Regions from separate parts of the Homo sapiens genome. Here regions 1, 3 and 4 are each linked to region 2. The links come from fine-mapping of genetic effects on gene expression. A gene starts in region 2. Each other region holds a variant in brackets. All regions are shown on one strand. Distances are from middle to middle.

The links.
Region 1: its variant is fine-mapped to the expression of AKR1C8 in whole blood (TOPMed, PIP above 0.99).
Region 3: its variant is fine-mapped to the expression of AKR1C8 in blood mononuclear cells (TOPMed, PIP above 0.99).
Region 4: its variant is fine-mapped to the expression of AKR1C8 in whole blood (TOPMed, PIP above 0.99).

What each region holds. Positions count from the first base shown.
Region 1 is chr10:5,129,819-5,138,034 of GRCh38, forward strand. It overlaps a transcript of AKR1C8 not described here. Among named protein-coding and RNA genes, the nearest start is that of AKR1C3, 40 kb to the left of the region's middle. The variant T/C (reference allele first, on the strand shown) is at 4,544.
Region 2 is chr10:5,181,654-5,189,869 of GRCh38, forward strand. AKR1C8 (aldo-keto reductase family 1 member C8) reads right to left here and starts at 3,497. Exons shown (of 9, transcript NM_001395972.1): 1 at 3,359-3,497. The coding sequence starts at 3,451.
Region 3 is chr10:5,307,339-5,315,554 of GRCh38, forward strand. No RefSeq gene overlaps it. Among named protein-coding and RNA genes, the nearest start is that of LINC02561, 40 kb to the left of the region's middle. The variant C/T (reference allele first, on the strand shown) is at 4,065.
Region 4 is chr10:5,286,548-5,294,763 of GRCh38, forward strand. No RefSeq gene overlaps it. Among named protein-coding and RNA genes, the nearest start is that of LINC02561, 19 kb to the left of the region's middle. RefSeq lists an enhancer at 4,640-5,839. The variant T/G (reference allele first, on the strand shown) is at 3,788.

The DNA.
Region 1 (8,216 bases), 52 kb before region 2:
AGCAGAATTCTACTTGACATTCAAAAAGAAGTTGGTACGAATCCTACTGAAAATATTCAAAAAGATAGAGAGAGACGGAACTCTGCCTAAATTATTCTGTGAAGCCAGTATCACCCTAATACCAAAACGAGGAAAGGACATAACAAAAATAGAAAACTATAGGCCAATATCCCTGGTGAACATAGATTAAAAAAATCCTCAAGAAAATACTAGCTAACCAAATGCATCAGCATATCAAAAAGATAATACATCATGATCAAGTGGGTTCCATCCCAAGGGTGCAGGGATGGTATAACATAGGCAAGTCAATAAATATGATATATAACACAAAGAGAATTAAAAAAGAAAAACCATATGGTTATCTCAATAGATGCAAAAAAAGCAATTGGTAAAATCCGCCATTGCTTTATGATTAAAACCCTCAACAAACTAGACATAAAAGGGACTTCCCTGAAAATAATAAAAGCCATATATGACAAACCCAAAGCCAACATTATACTGAATGGAGAAAAGTTTAAAACATTCCCCTGAGAACTGGTTCAAGACAAGGATGCTCAATTTTACCACTTCTGTTAATATTAAACTTAATCCTGGAGGTCCTAGCCAGAGAAATCAAGAAAGAAAAAGTAAGAAAGGGCATTGAAATTTGAATAGAGGAAGTTAAAGTATTGCTGTTTGCCAATAATATAATCATATACCTACAAAACCCTAAAGACTCATCCAAAAGTCTCCTAGATTTGATAAACAAATTCAGTAAAGTATCAGGTTACAAAATCAATGTACAGAAATTGATTTCTGCCATAAACCAGCAACAACCATGCTGAGAGTCAAATTAAGAAATCAAGCCCTTTACAACAGCTGTAAATAAAATAAAATAAAATCCCTAGGAACATATTTAATCAAAGAGATGAAACATCTCTACAAGGAAAACTATAAAACACTGCTAAAAGAAATGATACATAAGACAAACAAATGGAAAAACATCCCATGCTTACAGATAGAATCAATACTCTGAAAATGGCCATATTCTAAATTCATATGGAACCACAAAAGAGCCACAATAACCAAAGCAATACTAAGCAAAAAGAAGAAATCTGGAGGCAGTACATTACCAGACTTTGAATTATACTAGAAGGCTGTAGTTAGGAAAGGAGCATAGTATTAATATAAAAATAGGCATTTAGATAAATGAAACAAAATAGAGAACCCAGAAATGAAGTCAAATACTGATCTTTGATAAAGCAAACAAAAACATAAATTGGGGAAAAGACTCTATTCAATAAATGGTGCTGGGATAACTGGTAAGCCACATGTAGAAGAATGAAACTGGATACCATCTCTCCTTATACACAAATCAACTCAAGATGGATCAAAAACTTAAGTCTAAGACCTGAAACCATAAAAATTCTAGAAGATAACATTGGAAAAACTCTTCCTTACATTGGCCTCGACAAAGAATTTATCTCTAAGACCCCCAAAAGCAAATGCACAAAAAACAAAAATAAATAAATGGGACCTAATTAAACTAAAATAATTCTGCACAGCAAAAGAAATAATCATGAGAGTAAAGAGACAACCTACAGAATGAGAGAAAATTTTTGCAAACTACGCTTCCATCAAAGGACTATTGTCCAGAATCTCCAAGGAACTCAAACAAGTCAGCAAGATAAAAACAAATAATCCCATCCAAAAGTGGGCAAATGACACGAATAGACATTTCTCAAAAGTAGATATACAAACAGCCAACAAACATATGAAAAAAGGTTCAACATTACTAATAATCAGGGAAGTGCAAATTAAAACCACAGTGAGACACCACCTTACTCCTGCAAGAATGGTTATAATTTAAAAGTAAAAAAAAAAACAAAAACAGTAGAAGTTGGCATGAATGTAGTGAAAAGAGAACACTTTTACATTGCTGGTGGGAATGTAAATGAGTAAAACTCCTATGGAAAACAGTATGGAGATTCCTCAAAGAACTCAGAAGTAGATCTGCCATTTGATCCATCAGTCCCACTACTGGCATCTATCAAAAAGAAAAGCTTGCATGAAAAAGACACATGCACACACGTGTATAGCAGTGCAATTCACAATTGCAAAAATATAAAACCAACCTAAGAGTCCGTTGACCAATGCATGAATAATGAAAATGTGTTATATGTACATCATAGAATGGTGTATATGTAAAAAGGATTGAAATAATGTCTTTTGTAGCAACTTGGATGGAGATTAAGGCCATTATTCTAAGTAATTCAGGAATGGAAAACCAAACACAGTACCTTCTCACTTATAAGTGGGAACTAAGCTATGAGGATGTAAAGACATACAGATGATATAATGGCCTTTCAGGACTCAGTGTTGGGGGAGGTTGGGAGTAAGGTGAGGGATAAAAGCCTACATATTGAGTACAGTGTCCACTGATGGCCTGATGGGCTCGCTTAAATCTCAGAATCATCACTATAGAATTCATTCATGTAACCAAAATCCACTTGTACCACAAAAGCCATTGAAATTAAAAAATGAGCGCATAAAAAATATTTTACTGATCTGAGCTGTGGCTCAAAAAAGTAAAGTGATTTTCAAGTAACAAATTTGAACACAACAATGATGAGAAAGACATCATCATTTGCCGCCTTTTATTTTAGTTTTAATACATGAATATGTGTCAATAAATTGGAACCAATAAGCACAATTCACCCACCTACAGATCCAGTTACAGAATTGTCATCTCCACACTATCACATTAAATACATGTGCATGCATGCTTATCATAGGCACAGTACCTTTGAAGTGTAGAATATGTCTTCTCTCTTCACACTGTCATCTGCAATCTTGCTTCAGATGGCCAGTCCAACCTGCTCCTCATTATTGTATAAATGAGCAGAATCAATATGGAAGAAACCAGCTTCTATTGCTAATTTTGTAACCTCCACAACTCTATTCCTAGGAACCCGGAGGAGTAATGAAAAGTAGTATTTGGTGATCAATGTGCTCAACAGGTAGTTCAGGCACAAACAATGACCCTCACAAAAATCACATTATTCTTGCATCTTGGGTTAGTTCTATATATGGGGTGATAAATCCATCCCAATTTGCTTTAGTCTTTCCTGCTTAGTAATAAATGTTGGGTATCCCTGGACCTCTTCAATCCCAGGTAATTCCTGGTTGATCACTAGCAATGAGTTTCCCAAGAACAACCTCAGATTCAGTCATTTGTTGGACAAATTAACAAGACTCAAATTACAGTTATAAATATAGTCTTTATTATTACTATTATTATTTGAGACAGAGTCTCACTCTGTCACCCAGGCTAGAGTACAGTGGCACAATCTCAGCTCACTGAAAACTCTGCCCCTCCCCCACTTCATCTCGGACTGAAACAATCCTCTCACCTCCGTCTCCCCAAATAGCTAGGACCACAGATGCGCGCTATTATGCCAGTTAAATTTTTGTATTTTTGGTAGGTACGGGGTTTCGCTATGTTGCCCAGGCTCAAGCTCCCAAACTCAAGGGATCCACCTGCCTCTGCCGCCCAAAATGCTGCGATTACAGGCGTGAGCCACTGCAGGAAGCCTCCTAATTATTTTTAATATAGTGAAATTAACACATGGAAGAAGGCACATGGAAGGAACTACAGGAAGAATACAGTGCAAGTTCCTATGATTCCTCTCTCAGTGATGTTGCACAAAACACACTGACTTCCTCCAGCATCACATTTTGAGAATATAGGGGAAATGTTGTCTACAAGGGATGCTATTTGGACACTTCATTCCCAAGATTTACCTGGGTACTGATTACATTGACCCAGTCTGTGTACCACACACAAAACTCCAAGTCTTGTAAACAAAGCAGATATGTAGAAACCCCACACTTTGTACAAGCAGTTAATTATAGACAGCACCCTTATTAGTTAGGAAATGGTGAGAAATTCTGGCCTCCAACTTTGAAAACAGGTACATCTACGGGTGGCAGTCTGTTGTGTTCACTCCTTTCTACACAGCCATTAGCCATTCTGTGTGCATGACAGAAGTAAATATGACGAGTAAAGACATACACTCCAAGGATGTAGATTTATACATAAGAAATTAACTGCAACCTGTAAAAGATTAGTAAAGTATATTTTAGTCTTAAAAAATAAGGACAACTTTTTTAGGAAAGATATAATTTCAGTGAAATTTAAAATTATTGATTTATCTACCAAATTTGGATGAAGATTTGAAAGGTACATTTTTTAAACAACAAAGCCATGAATAGAACAATTTTCTATTTTAATATGAGTATTTCAGAAGCTTTCTATTTTCAATGATATTAAAAGGAACTAGATGCCAGGTCTCACTGCCTTCCCCTGATACCAGCCCTGATCTTCTCTTTGCTGTGGAGGCACTCAAGGTTTACCAAGGCTAAAGCTTCCATGTTGTGCTTTTCCTTACTTCCCCCTCATGCCAATTTTCATTACAAAGTAAACCGCTAGTGTTGATGGTCTTCAAGATGTCTCTCTGTAAATTCTTACAATGTACAGTTGAGAAAAGTGAGACAAATTTTA[T/C]ATGACTAGTCCTTATTCAAGCACTTAGTAGCCTTGGAATACACGTTTTCTTCCAGTATAGAAATAGTTCAGTCTAGAAAATAAAGTCTCCATTTTGCCTACTTTCATGTCAGGGGACCATCCATACCATTTTGATACAAATCTGATGCATATTAACATGGACCAAAAATCTAAAATTTCTCCTTCGAGGTTCTAGTTTTTTCTTAAAGTTATTTTTCCTTTTAATTTTCCTAGAGGTGAAAGTTGTACATGGGAACTTGTATTAAGTCCAAGACCAGTATTATTACTCTGTCATGCTCAAGGCCACACAGCAGCTCAGCAATACTCTCCCTAAGAGTTTTCATACACCCCGTCTCCAGACACTGTTACCACAAAGATTTTGTTCGATCATGTATACTTGGAAGAACAAACAATTTCTTCAATTATAGAAAGAAACGGAGAAACCATTCCACTGCAGTCAATCACCTACAAAAGGAAATGCCAGGCAGCGTTCTTCACTCTTGAGTTTTAAATATTCTGCAAAGCTGGGAACACCCATAAACAGAAGAAAAAAACAGTGCACAAAATAAAAGTAAGCAGTACACGACCATATGACCAGACCCCAATGCAGAACAAAGATTGACTACCTTTTCTCTTTGAACATGGAATAGCTCTGGCCTATTAAAACAGACCAGGTGAGTCACGCAGAGTAACACAGGAACACAAAGCTAAAACCCAAGTCATCTACTTATTCTAGCTTTGCTCTTTTAAATGCCCAACACTGAAAATATGATTATGTTACCTCTGGAGGTACACAGGTGCCAAATCCTAATACAGGCATGAAATGACCATCATTTAGCTCCACACACTGATATTTGGGATCCATTGAATGTCATTCCTTTCGCTAAGCAGACACGGTTTCCTTCTTCAACATCCAGCATTTATATTCACAGGTTGTATAAACAATGGGCAGGCAATGCTACACTGCCCACTGTCTGGGGCTGACCAATGTCATGTAGGAAGAGGCAAGTGATGGTGTATTACACAGGCTATGAAGAAAATTGAATCCAGTGCACTTGTTTTTTATCAAAGAGAATTCTTAAGTACATTTTAATATAGTCAGAATAAAATTATTATTTTCTTACTAAAGTAAAATTTTCCATCTGGAATCTATCTATCTATCTATCTATCTGGCTATCTATTATCTATCTATCTATCATCTATCATCTATCTATCTATCATCTATCATCTGTCTATCTCATAAATTCCTCCAATAGATTTATAGAATGATTAATTATCATATGTTGGACTATAAAACAACTCCAGCAACAAGTCTCGTTTTTGTTCATGCCGTGATGATGTTTCATCTTTATTTTATGTCATATAAATGATCAATCATTGTACATCTTTCTCTCACATGATGCTAAAGGAATGACTAGTAAGCATTTTTTAACAGGTGACAATAAAAAAGTTAAACATTAAAACCAAAGAAAATTTCTCCTTTTACCTTTCCATCAGCAAATATTTTGGGTTTTTTTTCTTTGCATTGTAGAAGGAATATTCATTCCTGATGAAAATGCAGTCCTGATGATGTTGTAATCCTGACAAGGGTTCAAAGGAAAAAGAAAATGCAGAAATTATGACATGATGTTTATTGGAGTATTAATTAACAATGTCTGGTCTTTGGACATCATTTGTAATATGGAAACAGTGCCTTATAGTATTTGTATCTTTCACATAGTTTTATAAGAAACTATCAAAGGTAATGTTCCAAAAAACTGGTAACTATTTTACATAATTTGTGATCCTGTTAAATGTTATTCATAAAACTGGAATCTAATTACAATAAATTGGTGAATAATCCTCACATGCCTTAATTTTTACTTGTGTCTCTCTTTGGAGGGCAAATTTGAATGTAATGATTGGGCCAGACACGTTGGCTCACACCCGTAATCCCAGCACTTTGGGAGGCTGAGGTAGGTGGATCACTTGAGATCCAGTGTTCAAGACCAGCCTGGCGAATATGACGAAACCTCGTCTCTACCAAAAATACAAAAATTAGCCACGTGTGGTGGCAAATGCCTATAATTCCAGCTACTCAAGAGGCTGAGGCAGGAGATAAGTTCAACCTGGGAGGCAGAGGCTACAGTGAGCCAAGGTCATACCACTGTATTCCAGTTTGCATGATCCATGATTAACATCCCTGATGAATCCACACCAATATCTGTTGTTTTTTGACATTTTAAGAATAGTCATTCTCACTTGTGTAAAATGATATCTTAATGTGCTTTGCTATGTGTTTCATAAGTGTACATTAAATGTAAATGGCTTAAATTTCCACATCAAAAGGACAATTTGCAGAATGGGTTTTAAAAAATCCAGGATGCAACTATATGTTCTGAATCAGAAACTTCCTTTAGAGGAGGACATAAATAGTGTGAACATGAAGGACAACAATAAGTATTTTAAGAAAATAGTAACCAAAGAAAAGGTGTGATAGCTGTACTAGAATCAGACGAAATAACATTTAGTCAAAAATTCTGACAAGAGATAAACAAGATATAAAACACAGGCATATTTTATAGCTATTAAAAGTCACATTCCAGACCACCAACATAAAGCAAATACCACAATAAAATGAATCACATAAATTTTTAAATTTCAACTGTATGTAAAAATTATGTTTACACTATTTTATATTAGGTAAGCAATAGTATCTGTCTAAGGAAACAATATACATATCTTAATTTAAACATTTTTTGTTACAAAATGCTAACAATTTTCTGAACCTTCAGCAGGATGTAATCTTTTGGCTGCTAGAAACTATTCCCTCACTGGGAGTCCATTCCAAGATGGCTGAATATGAACAGCTCCCATCTGCAGCTCCCAGCGTGATTGATGCAGAAGACAGAGGCCAGCATCATCCTGATACCAAAGCCTGGCAGAGACACAACAAAAAAGAGAATTTTAGACCAATATCCCTGATGAGCATCAAGGCAAAAATCCTCAATAAAATACTGGCAAACCGAATCCAGCAGCACATCAAAAAGCTTATCCACCAAGATCAAGTTAGCTTCATCCCTGGGATGCAAGACTGGTTCAACATACACAAATCAATAAACGTAATCTATCACATAAACAGGACCAACAACAAAAATCACATGATTATCTCAATAGATGGAGAAAAGGCCTTCGACAAAATTCAACCCTGCTTCATGCTAAAAACTCTCAATAAACTAGGTAATAAGAGCTATTTATGACAAACCCACAGCCAATATCATACTGAATGGGCAAAAACTGGAAGCATTCCCTTTGAAAACTGGCACAATATTGGGGCAACTTGCCCCCAATACTTCAGTGTATGTTCTTTCTATTTTCCATGAGTGTCAGCCAGCTGAGAAATAAAGAGAGACAGTATAAAGAGAGGAATTTTACAACTGGGCCGCCAGGGGTGACATCACATATCAGTAGGACCGTGATGCCTGCCTGAGCCTCAAAACCAGCAAATTTTTATTAAGGATTTCAAAAGGGGAGGGGGTGTAAGAACAGGGAATAGGTACAAAGATCACATGCTTCAAAGGGCAAAAAGCAGAACTACTAATAAGGGTCTAAGAAAGATCACATGCTTCTGAGGGAACAGGACAAAGGGCAAAAGCAGAACTACTGATAAGGGTCCAACAAAGATCATAAGGCA
Region 2 (8,216 bases):
AATGTATGTTCCAAAACCATATAAGATGTCTAAGATTCTAATGTCTAAATATATACTGTCAATCATAATTAAGGTTATTGTGTTAAACTATTGTAAACCACAGAAATAACCAAATTACTTTGTCAATCATATTCTTAGCTACAACTACCCTGGACATTTTGTCATTCACAGGCAATTGTTACCTTGTTTTAATCCACTTCAAAAGATGATTTATAATCAACTATAAGACTTTAACAAACACTCTCAAATACAAGTTTCTAATAAAAAAACATGCAAGACTCACAAAAAACTAAAATGTTTATAAATATCAAACAGAACAAGAGTTAACAAAATAGACTAATAGAAAACTGAAGTAATCCTTTTTAACTTTTCACTAAAAAATTACTGATCATCATTTTGTTTTTTTCAGAGTCAAAAAACTTTTGAAAGAACTACAACTTTTAACGATTGAATAACATACACTTCTGTGAACAAAATTTAAAACATATTTATTTATCTCTACCTGGTTCCTCTGAAATTCAGAAACTAATTATAAATATTCAAGACTTATAACAATATAATTGCTTACATCAGTACAATAAAAATCCATTTTCTTTTACAAGACACAATTTTTAAAAATGATTATTTTACCAAGACTTTGACTGGAAGGATATATTTCCCTTTGAATAATCAAACTTAACTTCCGAAACCAATAAAAACCTCTTAGAAAAACTGGCCTCATACCTTGTCTATGCAGTTCCCAAACAGGGTTCCTAACCTATAATAAATAAAGAATGTCACTTTCTAACAGGCTCAAGAACCCTATATTCTTGGGACCTCAAAAAGAGAAAAATTGACCCAACTCATAAATATTTGAGAGTACAAACCCATGACTAGACTCAACTTTAAACTGAGGTATTATTATCTGAGGTTACTTATGGAATAGAATTCCATCAAAACCAATTTAAAAACCCTATATAAAATAATTATTGTAAGGCCAGGTGTGGTGGCTTATGCCTGTAATCCTAGCACTTTGGGAGGCCGAGGCAGGCAGATTGCCTGAGCTCAGGAGTTCGAGACCAGCCTGGGCAACATAGTGAAACCCTGTCTCTACGAAAATACAAAAAATAAGCTGGGTGTGGCAGCATGCACCTGTAGTCCCAGCTACTCAAGAGGCTGAGGTAGGAGAACTGCTTGAACCCAGGAGGCGGAGGTTGTAGTGAGCCGAGATCATGCCATTGCACTCCAGCCTGGGCAGGAGAGCAGACTCTGTCTCAAAAAAAAAAAAAATTATTCTTACTATTCTTTATACAGATAATCAGACCAAATATGAAACTAAAATTTATTTTACAAACAACTCAGTACTATCCTATCATGACTTGTTTTTGACAAAAATAAGAACTAGAGAGAAAAATAGTGTGTCAAACTTGCCATACATTTGTTATTAAATTCTAGTCTCACTAATTATTTTTAAATGTTTACCTACATTTTAGACTAACCCTACTTATTCTTATGAACTAACCAACAATCTCTGACTACAACAAAAAATAAAAACAGTAAAAGATAAATAATATAAAATTTAGAACAATATTCTAGTTCTGAACAATTATCCTACAAATCCTACCAGGTCATAGGAATATATAGAATACCCATAATCCAGAGGTTGCTTTATTTGAGAAAAGAAGACCAAAAAAACTAAGCAAAACCAAGCTCCATACACCGAAATCGTAACAGACATAACTATAACTACCAATTATCAGGACGTATCAACAACCTCAGAATTTTTAAACTATCCTTATCCCCCCTTATTTCATTTTAATACATGTACTCTAATAGCCCAAATTATTTCTTCTCACATAAAAACTATCAAACTCTAAATGGTAATACTAATAACACCACACATAAACATATCTTTCTTCCAAAGATCATTAAACCAACCCCAGGAAGAACTCTAACTACTGTTCCCCACATGACACCACCATCCGACAAAAAAATAGCCAGAAAAGTCAACACCCAATCTCCCTGACAATTAGGGACTCCACTCCTGAGGGTAAAAATGAGAGAAAAAACTTAAACAGTTAGAGTGAGTTCTTGGTAAAACTCCTTTAAACAGAGAAACAGCTTGAAAAAAATCAGACTACACACACAGATAAGGAAACTTACACAAACCTCCAGCTCACTCAGATAAAAAAACAAGGCCCAACATCAAAATGCCTTTGTCCTTTATGCCTAAGACATGGCAACAACTGCACTCATATGAGAACAAGAACCAACAGAGAAACACATTTGTCTTTTGTGTAACCAACAGACTTCTAGGAAAGTCTCTTTTTCTTTTGTGGGCATGTATATGGTGGGCTCCAGTGGGCTCTGGTGGGCACTTTCCTTTCCTTTTGTGGACATGTGGACCGTGAGATGAGCCTTTATGAATTATCATTCAGCATCTGACTGCTCCTGGGCCAAGGTCCCAGGCCAAGCTATCACTTCAACTCCTGATTGGTCCCAGACCAAGGTCCCAGGACAAGCTGAGTTACACTTTCTCCAAGACCAGTCAACAAATTCTTTTCTTTCCCAGTCCATCAAAACCCTAGACCTGACCTCATAGTTAACAATCCATCCAGGCCCCCTCTCTACTCGAGAAAATCTTCCTTCTTTCACTTATTAAACTTTCACTCCAACCTTACCCTTTGTGTCCACAGTCCTTAATTTTCTCAGTCATAAGACAAAAAACTTCAGATAATCCCTCAAAATGAAAGACTACTATATTTTTAATACATTGATGAGACTGTAACAGAATCGCAGTGGCTTCTTATATAGCAAAAAGTTTGGATGGTTGAAACTCTCTGGCAAATACTTCCAGCCCCAATAACCTCACAGCAAAGCTGCCACTAAGTATTCATTTTGGCTTTTGATTCCTCCTGGGTCCTTGGCCCTTCACATTTCTAACCAAGAGTAGAGTGGCTCTGACCAGAGCAAAAGATGAGAACAGTCTGAGCTTGCATTTTTAAAACGTAACAAATTTTAATGAGTACTTACCTAGGCCAGTTGTTAAGGAATTAAATAAGATAATGCATGTAAAACACCTAAAATACATGGAAAGCATTTGATATATTAGGTAACATTGATACTTTTAATAGAAATAAAGATAATATACCCACAAAATTATCAATCTCAGAATCCCCACAATCAATAACTTGCCATGCCACTTAAAGCAAAAAAGATCTCTGTGACCTTGAGAGGAGCAAGTTAGAGACAGTTAAATGAAATCCCAGATGAGCCCTTCCAAGCATCCACTGTCTACCCAAGTGCAGGGCTCTTGCCTGATGACTGCCCTGCAAGTACAGCTGACCTAAGAAACTTCAGCCTCCTGGGGTCCACTTACATGATCAGGAGCATAAGTGCCAAATCCCAGCACTGGCATGAAGGGTCCATCATTCAGCCTCACTGAATGGCTTTGCTTCAGATCCGTCATCATCCCCAGCTAACCTGTCTTTCCTCCTTTTCCTCACTGACAGCCCAGTAGGAGACAAGGCTCCTGCGTTCTTTATTTGCACCAAATGCAGGATGGGCGGGATGGAGATGACAGCTGCCAATGATTTCAAAATGAAACTGGAATCAGTCCAGTGCCTTTTCTCTGATTCTTATGTCTCTGTGGGAGTATTTTACAGAAAACTCACTCAGAAATGCTGTGAATGCCAGAGGACTTTGATTTTCTCCTCCGTGTTGTTCACACTTGATTCCTTAGTTGAAAAATGAACCACACCAATTTGTCCTTGATAAGTACACTAGACTTCCTTTACAAGAGGCAAAGTTATTATTAGGGTGGTCATTTCAAAACACTAATTCTACTACAGAACTGAAGTTAACTTTCTCACTTATATTTGATTGTTAATCCCTTTAAAACAGCTTATTAGAATTCCTTGAATAACGCTTGAGGCCTAGTGCCAGCCATGCATGTAATGAAATTTCTTAAGAACACCCACCCCTATTCCCAGTATATTTCCCTCCTGTGTCAAGCCACACTCCATTTTCTCTGACTTGTTTCCTTGAATGTTTTGCAGAAAAAACTTGTCTGAGATCATGGATACATTTCTATGCTCTTGCCTTTGTTCCAGCCATTGTCTCTTTTTAGAACAGCCTGCTTAACTCCCTCCTGGTCTCCAGCGGGTTTCTTATCTTTTACTTATCCTAAAAGCACCTCCTACAGTCTAACATCCTTTATGACTCCTTCTTTTTATTGTTGTTTTTTGTTTGTTTGTTTTGAACAAAGATAGGAGATAGCAAAGCAGCCTGGGTCTTAACAGAACAGCTTGGAATTCCAGGGCCTAAATTGCTTTTGCAAACATAAACACACACACAGCAACCATGAGAAAAATGAAAATTAAAAATGGCTTCCAATTCAGATGCCAAGAGGCTCAGCCTAAATGGCCTTCTGCATAATTCACTTTGGACACTTTCATCCTCTGTAGGTGAGGACAACAGGTCTGGACCAAGGTTAATACCTTAAATGGTTCGAAATAACTGACTTTGGGCAGGGTGCAGTGCCTCATGCCTGTAATCCCAGCACTTTGGGAGGCTGAGGTGGGCGGATCATGAGGTCAGGAGGTCGAGACCATCCTGGCTAACACGGTGAAACCCTGTCTCCACTAAAAATACAAAAAATTAGCCGGGCGTGGTGGTGGGCACCTGTAATCGCAGCTACTCAAGAGGCTGAGGCAGGAGAATGGCATGAACCCGGGAGGCGGAGCTTGCAGTGAGCCAAGATTGCACCACTGCACTCCAGCCTGGGTGACAGAGCAAGACTCCTTCTCAAAAAAATAAAATAAAATAACATAACATAACAGACTTTGAAATAATCAGCAGGGTAACCAGTTATTGCTAAAAACACCTCTTCATCTTTTTTTTTATTTTTTTCAAATTTTAAGTAATAGATTTAATTATCACATTATGAAATACTATAAAAAGAGAAGATGACTTCTTCTATAACCTCCCTGGGTGAGGTTGACCAGCCTTCTCTGTGTGCCTCTTATTCTCTTAGCTTCTATGAAGCAGGTCAAAAAAAATCACATCATTGAAATTACACTCTCCACTAATAAGGAGCTTCTGCTAGATAAGATGCTTAAGTGGTATTTTCTTTGGTGTTTTTATTATGCGGTGCTTTCTCCAACATGTATTTGTGCCATTGGTATCTTAGAGGCAATCCTGAAACATGACGTTGTCATTTATCTTATTTTGAACCCATAGCTCTGGCTGCTCAAGGTCCGAATTCTGCCTGATTCTGATTCCCTGTAGTTTATAATTATCACAACATTGTATCAGTTATAAATCTGGCAAGTATACTATTTATATTACACTGGTAAAACTGTAGAACCCTACAGAGATGGGGTTAAGTTCTGTGTCAAGTCACAAAAAAAGCATGTCTATTAATGGTAATAGCCTGAAGCTCATCATTCACTAGATTAAAAATTTGTCTAACATGTTTGCAATATTAACCTGTATTTTGCACTAAATGGTTTACCCAAGTAAGAGACATTTCTCTGTCACTTCCCTAATTTAGCAGTCTAGGAAATTTGTTAGTGAAAGAGAGTGTGCCAATTTTATTCTTAGTAAATCCAAAGCAGGGCTTCATGCTCCCTTAAACTTGCCTTAAGCATTATCCTAAAACATTTACAGATTTGACGTCATGCTTTGTAGCAAGCACTTTTCAGAATCCATCTTCCCTAACTGGAAAGGTGTTCGTCCATGGTTTCCTGGCACTATTTTTACTTCCTCAGGTTTTCAAAAGCTACCAAGGATATGAGTTGCTCTCAGGGAGCTCATGGTTTATTGGATAAGAGGTGGGCAGATGGCAAATTGTTCCCCTGTGATCCCTGCCTCCTGGTATTTATGGCCCTGTATAATGTGTATAATGCCCTCTCATCAACTGTGACTAGTACTTGTGTCTTTATTCTAAACAATTGACTATTGTAAAGAAGAGTGATATTATTTCCATCATTAGGAAATACAAAATTGTAATTTCCATTGTGCTAGGAAACTCTACTGTTTTCTCAGTTTTCAAACTTTGATAAAATTGGTGGCAACATAGGAGAGGCTCACATGGAGAGGAGCTGAGTGGGGCCTCTGGTCACCAGCCAGCTCAAAACTGAGGCTTTCATTCAGACAGTCCAGAAGAAACCAAACCCTGCCAGTTCCCCCCTGACCTTGGAAGCAGGTTATTCCCCTCTAAGCCTTCAGGAGACCCTGCTTTAGACTTATGCCTTTACTGCAGCCCATTGAGGATCTGAGCAGAGGTACTAGATCAACTCTGCATGGCTGCACACAAGTCACTACAACCTTAGCAGCTTAAAACCTACACAAGGTGACAGAGTGCAAATGGCAATTATAATATAGCAAGGCACCCAAGGAAACAGAAGGAAACGTGCAATTCTGGAAGAAGAGGTAGAAGGAGTGCCAGAAAATATGTTGCAATGGCCTCCATGGAACACATTCAAGAATTATATGAAAGTGTATTTCATTCAAAAATAAATAGTGAGTAGCTATAACGTGCAAGATACTGTTGTCGGCATTAAAAACAGACAAAAATCGAAGCCTGCATTGAACTCACTTTCAAGGAGACAGAAACGGACAAAAAACTAATAATTACATAGAATGAAAACCATGTTGTATGATAGGAAGCACTGTGAAGGGAAAAAAGTAGGGAAAGGTGTAGAGTATGGAAAGAGGGCAGGGACAATTGAAATTACAAATAGCTTAATAGCTTAAGCAGGGGATCCTCACTGAGACAGAGACATTTAAGAAAAGACCTGAAGGAGTGGAGGAAGCCAGCCTTGCTGACAGCTGAGGGAAAAGGGCTTCAAGCAGAGGGATCCTGAAGGGCATAGTCCCTGTAGCCAGGGAAGGCCACGTGTGATCTGGGAACAGCAGGATTAGGAAAGAGGTCAGAAAGGAAGGGAAGGCCATGTTTCGGCAGAGCCCTGTAGGCCACTGAAAGCATTTGGCTTTCACTCTAGGACAGATAAGAAGACACTGAATGAAACTGAGCTGCTGTGTAGAGAGTAGAATGTAGGTTGGTGAGGGATAAAAGTGGAAAACTAGTTAGGAAGCTACTTAATAACCAATGTAAGAAATTGAGTAATTTGGAACAGGATGGTTGTAAAGCAGGTGAGGAGAAGTGGTCAGATTCTGGGTAATTTTTAAGGTGAACATCAGAGGCCTTGTTCACAGATTTTATATTGGTTATGAGAGAATATTAAAAGGCAAGAATCACTCCCCAAATTTAGTTCTTTATGATGGAAAGAAAGGAATCATTGAGACTGTGAAAATTTAAGGTGGAGCTAAATTGCATGGAGATTAAATAAATTTTTTTCTGTGGCATCCTGAGCTTGAAATGCCCATTAGACCCTCAAGAGGAGGTGCTGAATGGACAATTTGTCATTCCAGTCTGAATTATTGGGGAAAGGTCTGAACTGGAGTTCAGATTACAGCCTGCTGAAGGTTCAGATGATTGTTAGCATTTTGTAACAAAATTTTTTTTAAATTAAGGTATGTACATTGTTTCCTTAGATACTATTGCTCACCTAATGTATTACAGAATAGTGTATGCATAATTTTTATATGCAGTTGAAATAAAAAAATTATGTAATTCATTTTTGTGCTATTTTTTATGTTGGTGGTCTGGAACCCAACATTTAATATCTATAACGTATGCCTGTGTACTATGTCTTGATTATCTCTTGTCAGAGTTTTTGACTAAATTGTATTGTGTCTGGTCCTAGTATAGCTATCACAGCTCTTTTTTGGTTACTACTTTCATACAATACCTATTTCTGTCTTTCATGTTCATATTATTTATGTCCTCACCTAAAGTGAGTTTCTAGTTCAGAACATAGAGTTGGGTTCTAGATTTTTTAAAATCCATTCTGCAAATCTTCCTTTTAATGTGAAAATTTAAGCCAATTTCATTCAATGTACAGTTATGAGACACACAACAACATTCTGATAAAGGAAGAAACACAGAAACAATGGTGGCTTCCCCCAGTTAAGTAGGTGTTATCCCTGGGATTCAAGGTTGACTCAACATACACAAATTAAAAATGTGATTCATCACATTAACATAACTAAAGACAAAAACCACATAATCATCTTCATAGATGCAGGAAAGGCTTTTGATAAAATTCAACACTACGTCATGTTAAAAACTCAGTAAACCAGATATTGAAGGAACATGCCTCAAAATAATA
Region 3 (8,216 bases), 130 kb after region 2:
TCCTTACAACCTTAGAAGACAGCCAAATGGAAATACTTAGTAGGTGTTGGAATATTAGGCTGAAGCTCAGGAGCAGGGGGCAGATTTCAGTTACAGATTTTGCACCAAGATACATTTAATGTAATTTTGAAAATTGTCGTAGTCATTATGTAATGAATTATGTAATAAAATTAAATAAGTTAAATAACTGAATAAATTAAATAAAAATATGTAATAAAAGTATGCAATATAATAATTATGTAATGTAATATATAATTTTAAAATCCTCATTGTTACACCGAGATAAGTCTGCCTTGGAGGCAGGTGGAGTTGCCCAGGAAGACTGTAGAATGAGAGGCCAGGAAGACAACTGGAGAACCCACATGTTGGCGTGGGCAGAGTCCACACAGGAAATGAAGGAAAGGCAGATCCATTAGAACGATATTGATAGGATCTCACATCGCAGAAGGGGGGAGCAGTTATGAGAAAAATATGCTCAACACTGACAAATGCTGGGGGAAAAAACTATAACTCCACACTGCCAACTGAGGAAACAGCAAGAAGCTGTTGGTTAAAGCCACCAAAGCTCCCGGAACATTACAAGTTGCCCAACGAAGAAGGGGCCAGTATGAAGAAAGGGAGAAGGAACACAGGGACCCCTGAGGCTGCATCCCAAAAGAAGATGACCATCCTAGAGGAGAAGGAGCTGTGAAATCCTCATTGTCACCGCAGCTTACTTTGCAGAGGGCACAGTAATTTTTCAACAAGTGAGGTGGGAGGTTCGAGAGGTCTAAGTGGGTATTCAAATCAATAGTACAATCTAAATTATAACCTGACTCTGATTTGGGAGTGTGGTGACTAATGTATTTCGGGAAGAAGATCATTGCTGCATGTGCCAAATGACAAACAGGTGACACAAGTTAGCAAAGTTTTTTGTTTTGTTTTTATTAAAGAATACTTAGTGCTAATGAGGATATGGTGAAATAACTGTCTACTCAAGAATGAAAATTAATATTAACCTTTTGTACAACAATGTTGCAATATATATCAACATGTTTACATCATTTGATATAGTAATTCCAATTCTAAGATTTTTAATTAAGTAAATAATTTATAATATGGAGTAAGCCTTATGTTTATCTCAGGGTTATTTATGATAGGAAAAAACTAAACTCAAACTAAATTTTTCATGACAGAGGAATTATTGAGTAAATTATGGTACACATTTCAAGTGGAAAATCAGGCAAATGTTACAAATAATAACTGAAAGTTTTTAATAACTTGGAGAAATAGTAATTATATAACATTAAGCAGGAGAAATAAGATATAAAATTTTATATGCATTATTACATCAGTTCTGCTTTTTTAAGTCCATATAAAAAATTCACAAGATGCCAAGTATAATGTTCTCTGCAAAGAAGAATTGAGGTGATATATTTCCTTCTCTTTCAAATTTTCCTTACTCATCCTGCAATATTTTTATAATCAGAAAAGGTCATCCGGGCATTCAGGGATGAGAGCTGTTAGAAGGATTCCAGGAGTCTCACAGGCTAAAGCAGGTGAGGAGGGCTTCATGAAAGTAGTGGGACTTGAATTAGAATCTGACGGGAAAAAAAAAATTATACACTGAAGAGGAGTGAACGTTCCTGGCAGGCAGAATGATGACAACACGAACAAGATGGGGTGGTGAGTTAGGTGCAAAGAGTTGACCAGTTGGCTGGAGAGAAAGGAGACTTTGTGTATTGGAATATTGGAATTTAAGAGTAATCAGATGAATATAATATTGATGGAATGGAAGAATAAAGCTATTGAATAGTTTTGATCAACAAAAAAGACTCATGTGTTTTCTTCTAGCTTTAATTTTCATTAAACCCTCAAAACAATGGTTGGCATAGGAAGTGTTTGACAAACATTTGTGGGATGAATGAATGAGGAAACAAAGTCCAGGGTAGAAAACATTCTGTAAGTGCCGTTTAAATGCCTTTATTTTCTTCTGCAATCAAGTGTCTCTCCAAGATGATAGAGTAAGGTAGCCTCTCCACCTTTCAGCTCTGCTAATTTGCAAGTCAGACATATTGAGCTTCTGAAAATTTCACAGACCCACTCTCCCTTGGAAAAAATGATAGAGATAAAGTAAATGAAATAATTACTTCTCTACTATTCACCAGGGTCGTATATTACTCAGCTGAGGAAAATGATGATGTGTGCCATTTACTAGTTTAAAAAAAAAAAAAACACTAAACAAAAACTCTATGTAAAATTTCAAATTAAAAGCTTTTCCTAAGCATGGGGTTTATCTATTTCACAATGAAGACTGCATATTTTTCATCTTCCTTTCTAAATAGCTATTGATTACATTCAATTAATTCAGAATCTGATATAAAAAGATTTTCCTAAGACCTAACTCTCAAAAGAGCTAGAAAATGATGTCCAGGTGTTTGAAGCCAAGTCTCACACCAAAGCCCATGGGCTCCACCATCAGTCATCCTGCCTGCTGCCTCTCATATCTCCATCTCCAGCTGGCTGGTGCTGTGAGTTGTTCCATCGGCCCTTACCTCCACTCCACCCTTGGATTTACATTGTCTTGAGTTCTTGTATCTTACAAAATGTATAAGCTGTCAGTCAGCTAACCTGAAAGTCCAACTGTAATTCATGACCAACAGAGAGAAGAGGATAAGCATGCTCCCACCCAAAGCCCTTTTTCTACACAAGCAGCCAAGCACTGCTCTGTCCTCAGACCTCATCTGCCTGAGCTTTCATACATTGTTGTTCACCATCCCTCTTTTTAAAAATTCACCACTTGGCTTCTTCAAGTATTTCTTAAAACGTGATTCTTGGTCCTCTTCCTTCCTTCTTTACTCTCTTATATGTGTACGTCATGCAATGCTGCACATTTAATCCTATCAGGAAGGGTGATGAGGCATAAAGAGGACAGATTTGGAATCAAGCAAACATAGGTTTTCTGTGTGTGTTGGTTCGGTTTGTGTGTTTTTTTAGAGACAGGATCTCACTGGGTCACCCAGGCTACAATGCAGTGGTACAGTCCTTGCTCACTGCCCCCTTAACTTCCTGGGCTCAAGTGATCCACCACAGCCTCCCGAGTAGCTGAGACTATGGGTGTGTGCCATCACACCTGTCTAATTTTTTAATTATTTTTGTAGAGACTGGGTCTCACTGTGTTGCCCAGGCTAATAGCGAACTCCTATTGTCAAGGGATCCTCCCACCTTGGCATCCCAAAGTTCTGGGATTACAAGCATGAGCAACCATGCCCAGCCAAGCATATGTAGGTTTGAATATCAGTTCCACTACTTACTATTCTCTGTTGAATTACCTAATCTATATGAGCCAAACAATATTTTCCTTACTGAGAGGTTGTGGAGATTACATGAGGCCATAGTCAGGCTTACCGCATGGTACATGCTCAATACATGTGAGTTATCCTTATAATCATTATTAGGTGTGTGTTAACATGGGGATATTTGCTGATAATTAATTAATAGTAAGACTAAGCTTGACTGATGCTGGAGAACCAGGGTTCAGGAATTTGAGAATGATTGCCTTTGGGACACACACTTTTGGAAGAGGCCTTCCACCTGACCCTCCACGTCACTGCATTTTCTTGCCAGCTATGCCCAGAATGCATGGTCCTGACTGCATCTTGCCTGGGCTGTGTCTCAGGGTTGTGCTTATAGCAAGCAGCCTTCAGGGAGGAAGTAATGTCTTTCCCTAGGCAAAGGGCAGGCTTCCCTCCACTTGCTCTAAAGCCATGAACCCTCCAAGCTCATTGTTCCCAACCCACTACATGTGGGAATCTGTGCAGGTGCCTAGCATGTCAGTGGTGCTGACAGGTCAAGTAACACAAGAAGGGAGAGTGGATTGTTTGGTTTGACAAAATGAATGTCGCTGGTGTCCCTGAGAAGAATCAAGTTTGCTGGTGTCCTTGAGAGAAAAAGCACCATGGGAGTGAGTTCAAAAGAGCATGTTAGAGGCCGGGCATGGTGGCTCAAGCCTGTAATCCCAGCACTTTGGGAGGCTGAGGCGGGCAGATCACGAGGTCAGGAGATCAAGACCATCCTGGCTAACA[C/T]GGTGAAACCCCGTCTCTACTAAAAATACAAAAAAGTAGCTGGGTATGGTGATGGGCGCCTGTAGTCCCAGCTACTCAGGAGGCTGAGGCAGGAGAATGGTGTGAACCTGGGAGGCAGAGCTTGCAGTGAGCCAAGATCGCACCACTGCACTCCAGCCTAGACCTGGGCAACAGAGTGAGACTCCGTCTCAAAAAAAAAAAAAAAAGCATGTTGGAAAAGAGGGTTAAGTTGTTGAATAGAAACTTTTTAAGGCACTTTTTGCCAGAAGAGAAATGAGAAAATGAGAAATTCTCATGCTCCCTCTAAGAAAACTTACTCTTAACGGTTATAAAGGATTGTGTGATTCATAAGGAACTACTTATGAATACTATCTTATGAATACTACTGATGAATACTACTTATGAATACTTAAAGGATTCATAAGGAACTACTTATGAATACTTAAAGGATTCATAAGGAACTACTTATGAATACTATCTTAGCATGTTAACCTTCCCATAAAGTATTTATCATTTACAGGAAAAAAAAAATGTTTTCAACCAAAGCTGTCACCCTTTCCTGTTTGGGCCACAAGCCAGCCTGAGACAGAGGCTGGAGGCTGGAAAGCTCTGCCTGTCCCCCCGCCACACTGCAGACACATGGCATTCTGGTGACCAGGCTGCATTTGACAAGCCACAGGTTGAAGCTCTGTAGCCCTCTTGGTTTTATTGCCCCTTAAAGGAGATTTTAAATACATCACAAAGACTTAGGAGGGAGGATGCTGTCTTAGTCCATTTTCTGTTGTTATAACAGAATACCTGAGACCAGGTAATTTATAAAGAAAAGAAATGTATTTCTTATGGTTCTGGAGGCTGGGAAGTCCAAGGTTGAGGGACTGCATCTTGTGAGGGCCTTCATGCTGTGTGATAACATGGTGGAGGGCATCAGCAAATGTGCCAGCTCAGGTCCCTCTTCCTCCTCTTTTAAAGCCACCAGGCCCATCATGGGAGCCCCACCCTCTCAACCTTATCTAATCCTATTTACCTCCCAAAGGTGCCACCTTTAAATACCATCAACATATGAATTTGGGGATTAAGTTTCCAACACATGAAATCTGGGGGCTACATTCAAACCATAGCAGATGCTAATTCAGACACCAAGAAGAGTCACTAAAACAGCAACAATTGACTCTTGACTTTGAAGTGTTGTTAGATGATGTCAAGTACCCTATTGCCCACAATAGCACAAGAGAGTATAATATTTATGAGCCCATATTCTGACGCTTGCTGGAATAACAGCACCTCTGCTGATTAGGGGAAATCATACCTACAGTAAGCGTATTTCAAGAGCTGGCACCCATTGCAAACCAGTCATCCACCTCTTCCCTGAAAGGGACTAGGCATTGAAGTTTTTCTTATGCCAAGAAAGTACTTCTTTTACTCCACATGCCGCCAGTGTTCTCTGTCAAGAGTGAGAAGTTGAGATAGGAGGAAATAACAAGGAGACTTTCTAGAACCATCCAACTGAAAGGAGCCCTAGAGGCCACCCAGACAAGTGCCCAGAGGAGCTGGGTGATTCTCCCAAGCTCCCCCAGAAAGTCAGTGGCAGATCTGAGGTTACAACCAGGTGACCCAGTGTTCTTTGCAGAATGTCCCACTATTCAGAGGGCAATACCATTGAGTGGTGTCCCAGAGGGTGGGATTGAGCCGGGCTGCCTGGTTCAAACACCAGCCCTGCCACTTACTCACAGTGTTAGTGGACAATTTCCCTAACTTTTCTGGGCCTCCCTTTCCTTGGTCTGCAATAAATTGGACAAACTGCTTAACCTCCCTGGTCACCAGTATTCTCCTCTACAAAATACGGTGATAGTAATACCTTCTAGGAGTGTTGAAATGATTTAATCACTTGAGACATTAAAAAGAAAAAAACACTTGGCTCATGATAGAAAGAGCACTCAAACCTTAACTTTATTATCATTGCCTCTCTGAGATGGGTGAGTATGAGTTAGACAATGACTTTGCCTGAAAAGAGCCTGAAGTTGTTTAAGGAAGACAAAAAAGATTTAATAAAAATTCTTTTGGTTGTGGAAATGGTTAACGATGGGTGTGAAAGCCGAGGAATAATTACCCTTCACTGGGGTACCGTGGCAGCCCTTCAGGGACTCCCCCGGCAGAGCCAATGGGCCTGTCCTTGGGGAAGTTGTGAGCTTGTTCAGACCGGGTCCTTGAATAACACAGTAGACCACCCCTTTAGGGTGGCTTCATGGTTGAGGGAAGGAAGGCCCCTAAGATCAAAGCCCCTAAGAACTTCGACCAATGTCCAGCATCCAACAGACCACTTGGGGTAGAGGCATGGGATCTGAGCTACGGTTGTGGAGGACTGATGTCAGCAGAGCCCAGGGGCTGCAGGGGTTGTGGTGGGAGGTGGGGGACTTAAGGATATCACCCAGCCCACAACAGCCCTAAATAACCCTGTGGGTCCAGGTCTTCTCACTTGCTTCTGGATCTAGAATGAGTTCCTGGGAGAGAAAGTAAGAAGTGAAGGGAACATCAACAGTACTGGTGGTCAGAGGGTTCCTGGTACTTGGTACCACTGCCCAACACTCAAACCTAAAGTCACTTTGCTGAAAAGATAGCAGCCATTCCAGGCAATATTGTAAAAGTTGTGTTATCTTAACATTACGCTTCCTTGTGAAAGTCATTTTCCATACTCTCAGTAATTGCTTTAAAATGAGATTTTTATCAGTTCTTTTCTGCTGCACTTTGAGATTGATGCCTGTGAAGTGTTAGAATGCAGAGCTCAACTTAAGGCCAAAGCACAATTCGAAACTTCTCTCACCCCATCCACCAAGATTTGTCTTCACTCTTTCATCCGTTCATTCAATAAACGCTAAATGAGCATTCTGCATCAGACACTACATTGAGGAGGTGCAGATGGGAGCTCCCGCTGAAGAAATGATGCAATATGTGTGTATCTTAAACTAGGATCCCTAGAAAGACTGACACAGACAGCTGCATGCAGAATGTCTTGAGGGAGTGTTCCCAGGAGATACACCTGTGAGGACATGAGAAAGCAAGACTGGGCCCAGAGAGAAGATGACCCAGGAAGCAGCTGCAACAGAGGTCTTGGCTGCAGCTGCAACAGAGGTCTTGGCTATACCTGCAGAGAGCTCTAGATTGTGGATAATCCTTCTATGTTGTCTCAAATTGAGGCAAGGGGCTGGCACTTCAGATGTCTGCACCAGCAGTCATTGGCAGTGAACCACGCCAGAAGGGTGAATAGTGACCTTGGGTGGGGCTGTTTCCTGCCCAGTGAGGGGCCCAGCTGTGAACCATCCTGCCATCCTGAGAATCTCTAGAACTATAAACAAAATTCATCAAGCCACACTGATGGCCACATCCTTTCCCCTTAAATGATGTGGGGGCATACTCCCTCTCCCTTGAGCTACACCTTCTCCCCATGCCCTTAGAACATTCAAATGAGTAAAGGGAAAGAGTTTTCCTATTAACATATCCCTCCAGACAAATGAGAACTCAGATCATCTGACCTAATGCTTCACATTTGCTGAGAGTTTAATTAGCCAGAAGAGCACCTATTGCCTCATTAACCCTCTAACTGTGGGCCATTAGCAGTTAGAAAAGCAAACACAGCAGCTGAACAAAGCAAATACACGCTGGCCATCGCTAAGGTTGAAGATTGCCCAGGTGGTAGTTACCTGGGCAGCAAGTTGTTGCTAATCCTGTCTAGGTGAGCATGGCTAATAGGCCTTCTGTGTCTTAAAGCAGGACACCGTGAAAGGGAGATGGGAGAGTAAACCAAGACAGCCGCCAAAGGCTCCGTTTCTTTGTTTTGCTGAGGAGCAGGCTGAAAACACGGAGTCCGGGCATGTTGGTTCCTGGCCACACATCTGCAGCGCCTGGACAACAGGGTCTGGGGTGTGTGGTTGGGTGGAGGGAGGTGAAGGTAAGGTCAGAAAGGTGGAAAGAAAGAGACAAAGGACTGCCCTTACTGTAACATGGACATTGACGAGCAGAGCTAAATGCAATGGAAGAATAGAGAATAAAGGCTGAAAGCTGTTGTGTAAAGGAAGAAGAGCAGATGTTAGAAGTCATCTCACAATTTATAATCCTTTGGGTATATACCCAGTAATGGGATGGCTGGGTCAAATGGTA
Region 4 (8,216 bases), 100 kb after region 2:
TGGCCTCCTGCTCCCCTTTTGATCATTTGGGTTTCCATGATAGACTTGCACACTCCGAGGACAGCAACTAACCTCCTGTAAGCTTCTACTCCCAAATAAATTAGTGGAATTGGCTTCACCCTGGAGCATGGAAAAATCACATCTCATTCCATATGAATCAATTGTACAAGAATAACCAACGGGAAAACTTCTGATACTGGGAGAATTTTTCTAAGGCACTCAATAGGAAGGACAGGTCAATCGACACACACACACACACACACACACACACACTACATACATATTACAGCTGACCCTTGAATAACACAGGTTTAAACTGCACAGTCCCACTTATACATGAATTTTTTTCAATCAAAATTACAAAGTGTGCCTACTTCTCCTGCCTCCCTTCCCCCTCCTTCACCTCTTCTGCCTCTGCCACCCCAGAGACAGCAACCCCAACCCTTCATCTTCCTCCTTCTCCTCAGCCTACACAGTGTGAAGAAGACAAGGATGAAGACCTTTGTAATGATCTACTTCCACTTAATGAGTAGCAAATATATTGTCTCTTCCTTATGATTTTCTTGAGTTTCTTTTCTCTAGCTTACTTTTCTCTAGCTTGCTGTATTATAAGAATACAGTATACCATACATATAACATGCAAAATAGGTGTTAATCAACTGTTTATGTTATTAGTAAGGGTTGCAGTCAATAGTTGGCCTGGTTTTACCCAGGACACAGACGTCACCTCACCAAGCTGGCGTTGCAACGTTAGGATGATAATATGTACACGCTCTGCCTCAAATTTCAAACAGTGGATAGTCTAATGACTACATCTGAGATTCTGCCCTAGCAAGCTTCCTAGAACAGCAGGACAAAAGACAGCACAACACACACGCAGGAAAAAAGCTTCTCGTTCCTGCAGTGACTTAAGGTAAAAACACCAATTAGAGTATTAAGGAAGCTTCTTTTTCACTTAGTGCATTTGAAATGTCTGAATATTAAGCACGTGCACGTATTACAATTTATTATGGTAAATGAGGGGGTTATGGGGAATTTTGTTCTATTCTCTATGGCACTTTTTTCTGTCTTTTCTAAGAGTAATAAACATTACATATAACATATGTAAGACACACATTATGCCTAATGGATGAAATGGATAATTATGTCATTGAAAACCTACTGACCCTTTCTGGCAGCTGTTATCTCGTGATATCTCATGACAGAGTTCTACCAAGATTGAGCCCATCCATTGGTCTCTCATTTTGGGGGCAATCCCTCCAAAGCAACCCCAAAGCTGCCCTTACGTTACCGTGACCAGAGTGTGACACTTCAAGTTCTCTGCCATGAACTGAGTGGATGGCTGTATTTCAGTCCTTACTGTGATGTTGTGCCCCCTAAGTCTTCCCATCGAATTACCTAATGTTCTGAATCACAGTGGCTTCTTACGTGACAAAAGGTTTGGATGGTCGAAACTCCCTGGCAAATACTTCCAGCCCCAACAACCTCACAGCAAAGCTGCCAGCAAGTATTCATGTTGGTTTCCACTTCCCCCTAGGCCCTTGGCCCTTCACATTTCTAACCAGGAGTGGAGCGGCTCTGAGCAGGTGGAAGATGAGAGCAGCCTGAGCATGGGTTTTTTTTTTTTTTTTTTTAATGTAAGAAGTAGTGAGTACTTACCAAGGACGGTTGTTGAAGAATTAAATAAGATAATGCATGGAAAATACAATACATGAAACCATTTGATATATGTTAGGTCACAATAATAATAATAAAAAGAATTATCCAAAAAATTAACCTCCAAACTCTCAGAGTCAACAGCTTATCATCCTCTTAGTGCAAAAAAATATAAGACCCTTCAGCCTCCTGGGGTCCACTTACATGATCAGGAGCATAAGTGCCAAATCCCAGCATCGGCATGACATGTCCATCATTCAGCCTCACGGAATGGCTTTGCTTCAGATCCATCACCACCCACAGCTCAGCTAATCTGACTCTGCCTTTCCTTCCATTTCCTGACTGAGAGCCCAGTAGGAGACAAGGCTGCCACGTTCTTTATTTCCATCAATACAAGATGGGCAGGGCAGAGATTACAGCTGCCTATAATTTCAACATGAAGTTGAAATCAATCCATTGACTTTGTTCTGATTCTTCCATGTCTCTGCAGGCCTGTCTTACAGGAAAATCGTACAGAAAGATTTGCATGCTAGAGGAGTTTGAATTTTCTCTTCAGTGTTGTACACACTTGATTTCTAAGTTAAAAAATTTAAAATGCCAAAAGAAACTATCAACAGAGTAAACAGACAACCTACAAAATGAGAGATTTTTACAAACCATGCATCTGACAAAGGTCTAATATCCAGCATCTATAAGGAACTTAAACAAATTTACACGAATGAAACAAACAACCCCAATAAAAAGTGGGCAAAGGACATGAACAGACACTTCTCAAGAGGAGGCAAACATGCAGCCAACAAATATGAAAAATGCTCAACATCACAGATCATTAGAGAAATGCAAATCAAAACCACAAGGAGACACCATCTCACACCAGTTAGAATGGCTATTATTAAAAAGTCAAAAAAATGACAGATGCTGGCAAGGTTGTGGAGAGGAATGAACGCTTATACACGGTTGGTGGGAGTATAGATTAGATCAGCCATTGTGAAAGACAGTCTGGTGATTCCCCAAAAGACCTAAAGTCAGAAGTGCCATTCAACCTAGCAATCCCATTAGTGGGCATATACCCAAAGGAATATAAATTCTTATATTATAAAGATGCATGCTTGTGTATGTTCATTGCAGCACTATTCACAATAGCAAGGACATGAAATCAACCCAAATGCCCATCAGTGATGGACTGGATAAAGAGGATGTGGTGCATGTACACCATGGAATACTATGCAGCCATAAAAAAGAATTAGATCACATGCTTTGCAGGAATATGGATGGAGATAGTGGCTGTTATCCTTAGCAAACTAACACAGGAACAGAAAACCAAATACTGTATGTTCTCACTTATAAGTGGGAGCTAAATGATGAGAACACATACGGGGCAACAACACACACTGGGGCCTATCAGTGGGTGGAGGGTGGGAGGAGGGAGAGGATCAAGAAAAATAACTAATGGGTACTGGGCTTAATACCTGGGTGATGAAACAATCAGTACAACAAACCCGCATGACACAGGTTTACCTGTGTAACAAACCTGGACATCCTGAACACGTACCCCTGAACTTAAAATAAAAGTTCAAAAAAAGCATGCAAATATGTCTTTGATAATGGCACCAGACTTATTTTACAAGGTATAAAACTATCATTAGGCTAGTGAATCTAAACACTAATTTTCCCAGAGTACCTAAGTTAGCTTCCTCACCATTCCTTTCATCATAAATCCCATAACAATACCTCACTGAAAATTTATTGAACAAAGCCTGACACCTGGTCCCAAGCACACACGTAACAACATTTCTTAGGAAGACCTACTCCTACTTTCATTATCTTTGTCTCCTGTACCAAGGACCGTTTCGTTTTTTGATTCTCATTGTCTTGTTTTCTTTTTTTTTTTTTTTTTCTTTTTTTGAGACGGAGTCTCGCTCTTTTGCCCAGGCCGGAGTGCAGTGGCGCGATCTCGGCTCAGTGCAAGCTCCACCTCCCAGGTTCACGCCATTCTCCTGCCTCAGCCTCCCGAGTAGCTGGGACTACAGGCGCCCGCCACCACGCCCGGCTAAATTTTTTGCATTTTTTTAGTAGAGACGGGGTTTCACCGTGTTAGCCAGGATGGTCTCGATCTTGTTTTCTTGAATCC[T/G]TTTGGTGAGAAAAAATTGTCTGAAATCATGGATAAATGTCTGTATTCTTGCCTTTCTTTCAGCCATTGCCTCTTTCTGGAACAGCTTTCTCTATCCCACCTAGTTTTCAGCAGTTTAATGACTTCTTACTTATCTAAAATGCACCTCCTCCAGTCACACATCCTTTATGACTCCTTCTATGATCTCCCTAGATGAAGCTGATGCCCTTCCCTGCATACTCTTTAGCTTCTACCGTCCAGGCCAAAAAACCACATCATTCAAATTACATTCTCAACTAATAAGGAACTTCTGCTACATAAAACACCTAACTCATGTTTTCTTTAATGTTTCTATTATACTGTGCTTCTTGCAACCTGTATTTGTGCCATCCGTATTTTACAGCCAATTATGAAACATACAATTATAATTTATCTTACTTTCAACTCATCCCTCTGGCTGGTCAAGGTCAGAACTCTGTCTGATTCTATGAGTCCATGTGGTTACATTTATCTCAACATTGTGTTTGCTATAAATTTGATGAGAATATCCTTTATATTCCATTGCTAAAGCTTTTGCACTAAATAGAGATGTTCCGTATCAAGTCACAAGAAAATTCTGTCTTCATTGATGTGAACTGCCTGGAGTCCACAATTCAACAGGTTAAAAATTTGTCTAACGTTCAGTCCACCCGCCAGCTAAAAACTGAGGCCTTAAAGAACTGAGCAAGCTTGTTCTCCTCTCAGAGCTAGTCTCAGCCACCAGCATCACCTTTTTAGCTGCACTGAAAGAAATCCTGGCGGGTTTTCTCTAGTGGGGACCACCAGATAGGATGATGAGGGGATAAAGAATTTCTTCCCACCTTCTTGGTGATGTCTTTGTCCCTGTGTCACTCTCATTGAAGTAGCTCCCCAGTCCCTACTGTGTCTCTCCATCTCACTCCTCAGTTTTAGTTTCTTCAGAACAATTGTGATCAGAGCAATTGCCTGAATTATTCACACCAAGTGAGTTATTTATCAGAGGAATAAAGGATGTTTGAGCCATTCCATATCAAGTATCATCTTGTTTTAAAACATTTTGCTGGACAGAAAGAAAAGTCATTATTTACAGCAAAACTACAAAGAGTTGGATACAGCCCCAAAACTCTGATAGGAGATTTAACCATACAGAACAAGAGTTCAGCAAGGATGCTGCAATTCACGAGGAAAGGCTAACCCAGGGTTATGAGAGAAATGTTAACATTGCATGGCGATAAAATGCCAAATACCTTGCTGTGGTTTGAATGTGTCCCCCAAAGTCCATGTGTTGAAAGTATAATCCCCAGTGCAACAGTGTAAAGACGTGCCCTCTAAGAGGTCACTAGGTCATAACGGCCCTGCTGTCATGAAGCACTGACCTTATTATTGCGAAAACGGGTCCATTATCGTGAGAGTGGGTTTATTGCAAAAGTCATTTCAGCCCTCTCTTGTCTCTCATCCTCTTACCCCTGCGCTCGTGCCCCCTGCCTTCTGCCATGGGATGACACAGCACAAATGTCCTCACCAGATGTGGGGCCTGTGATCTGGGACTTTCAAGACTCCAAGACTGAGCCAAACAACTTTCTGTTTTTTATGAGTCACTCAGTCTCGGCTATTCTGTTACACAACAGGAAACAGACTAAGACACACCCATATAATCCTCTCTGAATAAATGGGAATCCATTGTCAAGCAACAAAGAGAAATGCTGCCCGACTCTCTGGGGAAACACACCTTACCCCTCTTTTACCACCCCCACATAAGTAGGGAGCCAAAAAGATCAGCTTTCAGAGTTCTCAAAATGCCTTCTGAAAAGTCTGGTTAAGACCACACCTTCTGACCGGGAGTCTGGTTCGTTAAGACTGCTGTGACAAAGTACTGTACACTGGGAGGGTTATAAACAAAAGACATAGATAGCTCACAGATCTGAAAGCTAAAAGTCCAAGATCAAGGTGCTGGCAGATTCAGGGTCTGGCGGGGGCCTGCATCCCGTGTCACAGACAGCTGTCCTCTCACTGTCCTCATGTGGCGAAACAGGCACGCAATCTCTCTGGGGGCTATTTTATCAGAAGCACTGGTATAGTTTGGACATTTGTCCCTTCCAAATCCCATGTTCAAGTTTGATCCCCATTGTTGGAGATGGAGTCTAATGGGAGGCTTGGGGGCCATGGGGTAGACGCCTCATGAAGAGATGAATGCCCTCCCAGGGGAGGGGGGTAAGGTCTTACTCTATTAGTTCCCATGAGAGCTAGTTGTTAAAAAGAACCTGGCCCCTCCCCTCCTTCCTGCTTCCTGTCTCACCACACGATCTCCGCACACACCAGCTCCCCTTCACCTTCTTCCACACTTGGAAGCAGCCTGAGGCCCTCACCAGAAGCCCAGTCCTGAAACTTCCAGCCAGCAGAACTGTGAGCTGAATAAACTTCTTTTCTCTATAAATTACCCAGCTTCAAGTCCTCCTTTATAGCAACAATAAATGGACTAAGAGGGGCTCTAATCCCATTCATGAGGGTTCCACCCTCACGACCTAATCACCTCCACAGGACCCACCACCAAATAGCATCACCTTGGGGGTTAAGGCTTCATATACGACTTTGGTGGGGATGTAAAGATTCCATTCATTGCACAGGGCAAAGGGAGGCCATAGCAGCAGGGTCATAGTGTTCTGGGGCTGCTCACTGCCCCTCACTCCCAGGCCTGCCCCACCCCAGCCAAGGCCTTCATGCTGCTCTGGGCTACCTCTCCCAGGTCCTGCATCCCAAGCAAAGGTACAGACTCAATTGAGATCTCCTGAGACTCACTCCCTGCCCCTGCAACAAGATGGACATGTCCTTGTCAAGTTCTTCTCTAGGAAAATGTGGGCATCACATAGAGACTCGTACCTACCTGTGCAGAGGTTTTCCAGAGCCTCGATCACCCCCTCTGTCTCATCATTGGTTTCTGGCTTCAGTCTCACCTTCTTGGTGATGTCTTTGTCCCTGTGTCATTCTAATCAAAGTAGCTCCCCAGTCCCCACTGTGTCTCTCCATCTTACTCCTCAGTTTTAGTTCCTTCAGAACAATTGTGACCAGAGCAATTGCCTGAATTATTCACTTATTTTGTGGTATGTTTTCATATTTATTGACTGATTTCTCCAACACTAATCACCACACCTAGAAAAGCTCCCTAGTATGTGGTCAGTGCTCAATAAATATTTGCGGAATGAATGAAATTGAGTTCTAAGCATAGGCACAGTGGGGTTTTTTTTTTTTTTAAGTTTTTCTGTGCTCTGTTCTTATTTTCTGTGATCTGCAAACTATCTCTAAATCCTTATGAAAGATTGCGTCCAACACTGTTTTTTGCAGTGGGAAATTGAGAGGCCCATGTTGCACTCAAACAGAGCAGCAAAGCATTCGTCATCCCTCCCCTCAGGGCTGGGACTAACAGCAGGGCCTTCCTCAGCAGAGTACAGCTATGCCCAGCTGAGTGACAAATGCTCTAGTCAGAGAACACAGCAGCACAGGAGGCCAGCATGGTGGCCACAGGGGGAGTTCACGCGTGGCCGCTTGTGGACAGGTGCAGGGTGGCAGCCCTGAGGAGGTTCAGAACACCAGGGGCATCTTGAGGTAACAGCATCAGTCATGAACCAGGATATAAAAATCCATGCTGCTTATTTAAACAGGATGTGTAATCAGACGGTTGGAGTATCTACAAAGAAGCCAGTCAGGAAACAATAAAGCAACCCAGAGGCTTTTAAACACAGGAAGTCGCTACCCTCCTAGGCTAGAGAAACAGAGGTAGCAGTGCTGGAGGCAGAGCCCGGGGTCCCTGGAAGAAGCAGCAGCCATGGAGGGCCTGAGGGAGGCAGCCAGGACGACTGGAGGGATGGAAGCTGCTGCTGTGTCCCCTAGAGAAGGGAAGAAAGGCACCTGGACTCCAGCTTCCCTTTCTGCTCTCAGCAGCGCCTCACAGTGGCCAAGTCCAGCTGGAAGGCAGCAGGCAGAGAGGGCAGCACCCAGGGCAGAAGAGGCCGCTCTCCTGGGCTACAGCAGAGCAGGAGAGGGAGGAGGAGGGGCACTGAGCAGACAGGAGTGTCAGTCAATCAGGCTGACCCTGGCCCCGCATCCTCAACGGGATGTTAATGAAATACCGCCTTCTTCTGTAGTTCAGGCTGATGGGGCAGGAATGCTGGGTTATGTAAGTGTCGCAGTGTTCACTGAGGGGGATAACACGAAAAACTTATTTGTTCCTGGGAAAATTTCTTAAATCTCATTAAGGCTTCTTAAGCATTCACAAGATTAAAGCCACCTTTGCCAGAGGTTAGGATTAATAGGTGGGGCTAAATAGCCTACCTGAAATTCAGTTCCAGAAATATTTACTGAGTATCTTTTATGTGCAACTGTTCCTAGGTTTTGTTTGTTTGTTTGTTTGTTTGTTTGAGACAGAGTCTCGCTCTGT